Linked DNA regions of Homo sapiens. The protein of the gene in region 1 purifies or fractionates together with the protein of each later gene. This does not show direct contact. Each region holds a gene or a part of one and is shown in the gene's direction. Other genes may lie near its edges.

Region 1 (3,500 bases):
ATTAGCATATTGTCTGGCACATTATAGGCATGTGCTTGTTAAATACAGTTTCAAAGCTGAGTGAACTGTGTTTTAAATTAGAGTACTGGCCGGGCGCAGTGGCTCATGCCTGTAATCCCAGCACTTTGGGAGGCCAAGGCGGGCGAATCACGAGGTCAGGAGATTGAGACCATCCTGGCTAACACAGTGAAACCCCATCTCTACTAAAAGTACAAAAAATTAGCCGGGCGTGGTGGTGGACACCTGTACTCCCAGCTACTCGGGAGGCTGAGGCAGGAGAATGGCGTGAACCCGGGAGGCGGAGCTTGCCGTGAGCCGAGATCGCACCACTGCACTCCAGCCTGGGAAACAGTGCAAGATTCCATCAAAATAAAATAAAATAAGATGAGATGAGACAAGATAAGATAAAATAAAATAAAATAAATTAAAAAATAGTAAAATAGGACGATTCTCAATCTGTGTTCCAAAAGAAGTTAATAAAAAGTTCCCATGGTCAAGTAAGTTTGGAAAGTTTGAGTTAAATAAGTCACTCTGCTACAGGACTTCTCAGAGTTATTCATGATCGAATGTGAATTTCTAGCAGGAGAATATGCTATACAGCATTTCTCAAACTTAATAACACTTTGAGGAGCATAGTTTGAGATCTGGTGGCTTAGGGTTTTACGAATAGAGAAGAGAGAATAGTATATAGGGATGTCTTTGTTTAAATGGGAGGGCCCTCCAGATTTAGACTTGAAGTTTTAGGAAATTGCTGTAATAAGATTTTTCCTTAGGATCTAGGGTGACCGATATCTTGGCTAGGCAAAACTTAGAGGAAGGTAGACCAGGTATGGTGGCTTATGCTTGTAATCCCAGCACTTTGGGAGGCTAAGGCAAGAGGATCACCTGAGGCCAGGAGTTCAAGACCAGCCTGGCGAACATGATGAAACCCCATCTCTACTGAAAATACAAAAATTAGACAGGCATGTTGGTGCACGCCTGTAATCCCAGCTACTCAGGTGGCTGAGGCATGAAAATCGCATGAACCCGGGAGGCACAGGTTGCAGTGAGCCGAGATCGTGCCACTGTACTCCAGCTTGGGCTTGGGCTGGAGTGTAGTAGTGCGATCTCGGCTCAATGCAACCTCCGCCTCTGTCTCAAAAAAAGCAACTTAGAGGAAGGTAAAGTTATTTGCCCATTTTCTTTTTTTTTTTTTTTTTTGAGACGGAGTCTCGCTCTGTCGCCCAGGCTGGAGTGCAGTGGCGGGATCTCGGCTCACTGCAAGCTCCGCCTCCCGGGTTCACGCCATTCTCCTGCCTCAGCCTCCCAAGTAGCTGGGACTACAGGCGCCCGCCACTACGCCCTATTTGCCCATTTTCTAATTGTAGTAGACCAAAGGCATAAGATCAGAGTTGTAAATGTAATCTCGCTTTAGCTAGTAGTTTCCCAGTGACATCCTCTAAAATCTCTTAATACTGCCAACAGAGAAGCCAAGACCTTTTATGGTTTGGGAGGTGCTGGGAAGCTGAAGAATGAGAGATTGAGTTAATCTACAGAAATTTCTATTTTAGGAACACAGGAAGGGAGAGAAGTTCTGAAATTGCTTAAACAAGTTCCAGTTAGTTCCTTCTTGCTGAAGTATGAGTGAAACGGTTCTATTTATTATCTACTGTAGTAATCCAGTAGTTTGTTTGACTGTGGTGACTTGGTGTTAACATTTTTTTTCTTCTAAATTTTAGAACAAGCACTGGTTAATTAGGCAAGCCAAGACTCCAATGACTAATTCTTCAATACAGTTTTTAGATAATGCATTTAGGAAAAGGTAAGAGCTGCTGCTACATAACAATCTGAGTGGTTTTAAAGACCCTGCAAATCAGCTCATGAAGAGGAGACCACACCACATTGTTGTCTCTGAAACAAAAACAGAGGGAAGCAAGTCAGTGGGAGAGAGGCTTCGATGGGGCACCAGAAGCAGAGAGATTCCTTTACACTCAAATGAATGAGGTGGCATTTGGACCCCAGTACTAATTAGACTGCCCATTTTTAGGACTTGGCAAAAGTCTTGCAAACTTGAACCATGTGGTAGAATTTTTTCTCCTGCTTTAAAGAAAAGGTGACTTGGTTGAGAGAGCCCATTGTCATATGTGACAAATGACCCAAAAGCTTAGACAAGATCAAAATATCTGCCTTTGCCATTTGGAATTTTCAAGAAATTCTCTTAAGTCAATTTTTAAAAATCCATTACTTTCTCTTAGGAAGTGTTTAGTGTAGACCAGGGATAAGCAAACTTTTTCTGTAAAGGGGCAGATAGTAAATATTAATAGGCTTGCAGGTCATACATTCTGTCACAACTACTCAGCTCTGCTGTTGTAGCACAAAAGCAGCCCTGGGTAACATGTAAATGAATGAGCATGGTTGTGGTCCAATAAAACTTTATAAAAACAGACAGTGGGCAAGCTTTGGCCCATGAGTCATAGCTTGCCAGCTCCTAGTTCAAACATCTTAAGCTTTTTTGTAGCACAGTCCTATCTGAATTAATCTGTAATACACAGTACTGAGAATGGACAACTCTTCCTTCCGATTGTCTCTACTCTCATCACTATTGCCAATAAAAAGTAAAGCTAACTGGTTATTTAAAAACGAGTTTATTTCTTTGGAAACAATTAACTTTGGAATGAATTAATTATGTTCTGGAATTTTCTAATCTGTTTTTTACAATGGGAAGGTCTAGGGAATGGAGATTGGGGATTTGAGTTTTGGGGGAGAGTGTTTTGCAATTTTTTTTTTTTAAACGGGGGTTGTTTTGGATTTTTTTTTTTAAACGGGGGTGTCTTTGTTTTTGTTTTTGGTTTTTTTTTTTTTTGGCAAGATAGTGATACCTCAGCCATTGCCCCTGAAGTCCCATTTCTACCTTCTGTTCACATCCAGGTGGCAAACTCTCCTCTCAGTTGATGACCTTGTGGAGAAACTGGTCAAGAGGCTGGAGTTCACTGGGGAGCTCAACAACACTTACATCTTCTATACCTCAGACAATGGCTATCACACAGGTCAGAGGCAGGAGTAGGTACTGCTGTGATCTTTGAGAATATGTCTTTCCTTTTTCACCCAATGAGCCCTGGGAGGGAGTTCTAGTCTTTTTATAACTGTGGACATGCCAGAGGGAGGATCTTGCCCTCAGGACCCCTCCAGTTGGAGCACCACATCATACCCACGTGGAGAAACCAGGTTTCATTATTTGCTGTTTCACATGCAAGATGACATGGTGTTCTAGGAGTGGGAGCAGAGCATGAGCTTGATGGGTTGGAGGCAGGCCGTATGGAAGGCATTTGAGATAGGAAGACCAAAAGGAGGTTGTCTTGGGAAAACTTTCTTGCCATTCATGGAATTTGTTTTTTGGGTGTTTTTGTTTTTTTCAAAAGCTGCAGGATGAGTCAGCTCTGTGTCCTTGACTTTCATGCTTTCTGCTTGGACCTTCTGTTGTTAAAAGCAAATGTTTTCTTCTTTCCACATATATAAATGTC
Region 2 (3,500 bases), on another chromosome or scaffold:
TCCAACCTAGGCAACAAGAGCAGAAATCCATCTCAAAAAAGAAAAAAAGAAATTGAAATTATTTTTTCCCATTGACTTTTAATAATAAAATTAACATTGTTTTCATGGGAAAACATTTGGAATTGAAATGAAATAAAATCCATTCTAAAGAATGCAATAGGCCTCTTGAAGTTAAATATTAAAATGAAAAAATAACTCATTACAGCATTAAATTGTTAAGATTAAAAATAAATCCATAATACAAATAATTTTCTGCAGTTCACTACGACATGCAAAAAATGCAGTCCCCTGAGGTTTGGCCTATGGGAAAGTGTGTTGTACCTAGGGTCACTCTGCACTTCAAATACTGAAGGTAACATTTACATTATAAAAATTCTGTTAATATTGCAGGCATGTAGTTTATTTTATTTTTTTCTGAAAGGGCTGTCTGTGGCTCTTAATGTATTTTGTTTAACATCCTACATAAAAGTTTTACAGTAAAAAATGGTGTATCTTTTTGTGAAATGAAAATACATCAGCAATATTCAATGGGACTGGATAAAATTCCCCTTGTTTGAACCTTGATTTTAAGGTTAGGAATGAAAGCATTTTGTTGATGGAGATAATAGAGGTAAGAGGTACCTTTTAAAATAAATTGCACATAGCAGAAGAGGTAAGTGACAAACTTTTTAATATTTCACATGAGAATAATCTCAAAGTATATATCTATTTTTTTGACAGTATTCTTCTTTGTATCTCAAATTGTTTTGCTTTTTAAACATTCTTATTTTAGTTATCTGGAGCTTTGGAAAATGCAAAAGCTGAGATTCAAAGAATGCAACATGAAAAAGAGCACTTTGAAGATTCCATGAAAAAAGCTTTCATGAGGGGTGTATGTGCATTAAATCTTGAAGCCATGACTATATTTCAAAACAGAAATGATGCAGGTTAGTATTTCATTAAAGTTTCTCTGCCTAATTTCAAAAAAAGATTTGAGGAGATTTTGGTGATTGGTATGGTCTACAGTACAAATAATCTGCAGTAGGTATGTTTCATCCAGGTGCTGCTATTCTTAATTCTATGGTGTCATATCCAGACTTAAATCTGCCATGAAAATGAGCTCAGTCATGGTTACTTATGGTATCTTAGATCTGATCAAGTACACTGTCACTCCTAAGTATTTAAGCTAAATGTTGAAAATAATATTTTAATGTATAGCATTATTTTAAATCTCTTTTAACTAAGAATTTTAATGCCTTTTTAAGTACAAAACTTCTAATTTTGTCTTTTCTTAAGTAGCCAAATATTTTGGACTATTTTGGTAAGTATTTGTTATCTAGTCATGGTTTCTCATTTTAGAAATTCCTAATCTTCCTGTTTATGAAAGGCCTCAACTAAGCTCATTGCAGCAAACATAAATATAGACCTATCTATAGAAGTAATTTTATTTTTTTTAAAAATCCACATATTGTCTGACATAAGAGTGGTTTGTGTAGTAGTTTTGTCAGCATGGCGTAGAAAAGCCCATAACTAGAATCCTTTGCCACCAATTTACCCAGGGGCCTGTTTTCCTCATTCGGCCTTAGATTTCTTCTCTGAGCGAAGGAGATAATATAAACCTTCCTTACCTGCTTCCTAGGGGCTTCTTGTGGGATGCAGTAAAACATATCTGAAAACACTTTAAAAGACAAAATGCACTTTAACGTGTAAGATGATAGTCATGATGTAATTATTAATAGTTTTAATTCAAGTCAACGTCTCAAGATTTTGTAAATGATTAACATGATTTCAATCCAATGAATAACTTCTCTGTGCTTGTGATGCCCTTATTTTAAAACATCAACAAACATTTATTATTTAAAGCATGCATATTGTGGATAGGAGTAAGTTTAGGCAAATTGCTTTCTATCTGAAGTGGTTGTGGTTTGTGGGCCATATTTAATTTAGAAACTGAGAATCATGGAATCTCAAGGCTGAATAGTTTATTTTGGTAATACCTAGGTGAGTACTTGATTTTTCCAATAAATGGTCTTTTATTTGAGTATCAGGGTTGAAAACAAACTCACCACCTTCAATGATAGAATAGTCTGTTTCAGTTCTAAGTATCAGCAAGTTGTGTGTCACAAATTGAGAAATTTAATTGTTTACTTGGGAGAAATATGAGTTTCACAAGTAAAGTGACAAATTCCTATTAGAACTTCTTACATTAAATTACAAGAAACCTGTTTCTTATAACCTACTTAAAAAGATTTTGAATTGACTTAGGAGTATTTCCCACCTTAATACATTTACCATCTTAAAATGTAAATTGAAATGCAACTGTGTCTCCTAAAGGCCAATATCCATAAGAGGATTTGAAGAAAATGTCTTCTGCTAATTACACAACATGATTTCTTTTGCTCCTGTTACTTTTGAAACAATCGATGAGAAAGATGACAAGAATGGTAAAGCATGCATTAGCAATAATGTTGGTAGAGCTACCAAAGGCAAAAAAGTTCAGTATAATTCAGTGGATCTGCTTTGTGATATTTAGGTTTTATGACATTTTAATGACACCTATTTTTTTTAGTTCTCATAAGAAAAAAAAATTACTTTTGGCCCCCTTCTATTAAAACAACTGTTTTTTATAGGCCAGGCGCGGTCGCTCACACCTGTAATCCCAGCACTTTGGGAGGCCGAGGTGAGTGGATCACGAGGTCAGGAGATCGAGACGATCCTGGCTAACATGGTGAAATCCCGTCTCTACTAAAAATACAAAAAATTAGCCGGGCGTGGTGGCAGGCACCTGTAGTCCCAGCTACTCAGGAGGCTGAGGCAGAAGAATGGCGTGAACCCAGGAGGCAGAGGTTGCAGTGAGCTGAGATCATGCCACTGCACTTCAGCCTGGGCGACAGAGCGAGACTATCTCACAAAAAAAAAAATTGTTTTTTATAATGCAGTTTTTAATAATGTAAAGTTCCTAATGCATCTGTCTTGTTAGAGCAAAATAAATATTTGGTTTTTTATTTGTACCGATTCTTTGCTGTCTGTAATTTGCAGTACCTCTCATGTTGTGCAGTATCTTAAATCTTACAAATTAGAGGTTTTTATGAAGAAGTTAGAACATGACAAAAAGTCCTTAAAATTATATCTGCCAATTTTACTGTGCCAATTAGGCACAGTAAAAAAAAATACTTGACAAGTGAAAAATTTATTCCAGCTAAAATGAGATTAATTATTAAACTTAAGAGTTATCTGATATCAGCCTATATTAGCAAGAGTTGATCACCTGCCTCTCTTCCCTGACCTTCATACTGTTTCTACATCTCCTAATGTCTGCCACCATCTAAAGATAGACACTCAGAATCTCTACCAAAACAAGTTAAAACTCAGTGTGTGTTTTGTTTTCAAATTAAAAGTATTTTATATTGAATTAGTCCCTTTCATCAGAGGAGTTCAAAGGATCTAGGTAGGCACTGTAATCATTGTTAAACTTCTTAAATAAGCTAACTAACTAATACTCTGCAAATTTTCTATACAGA

Evidence for each region. Proteins that work in one complex are often made in the same cells at the same time.
Region 2: the proteins of GNS (region 1) and POC5 purify together in Homo sapiens (co-immunoprecipitation; one large-scale study listed by IntAct). This does not show direct contact.

What each region holds. Positions count from the first base shown.
Region 1 is NC_000012.12:64,738,907-64,742,406, reverse strand, and holds part of GNS (N-acetylglucosamine-6-sulfatase precursor), read left to right. Parts: intron 1-1,718; coding exon 1,719-1,801; intron 1,802-2,907; coding exon 2,908-3,026; intron 3,027-3,500. UniProt on the Homo sapiens protein: Hydrolyzes 6-sulfate groups in N-acetyl-d-glucosaminide units of heparin sulfate and keratan sulfate.
Region 2 is NC_000005.10:75,686,438-75,689,937, reverse strand, and holds part of POC5 (centrosomal protein POC5), read left to right. Parts: intron 1-772; coding exon 773-926; intron 927-2,609; coding exon of another isoform or gene 2,610-2,728; exon of another isoform or gene 2,729-2,990; intron 2,991-3,500. UniProt on the Homo sapiens protein: Essential for the assembly of the distal half of centrioles, required for centriole elongation. Acts as a negative regulator of centriole elongation.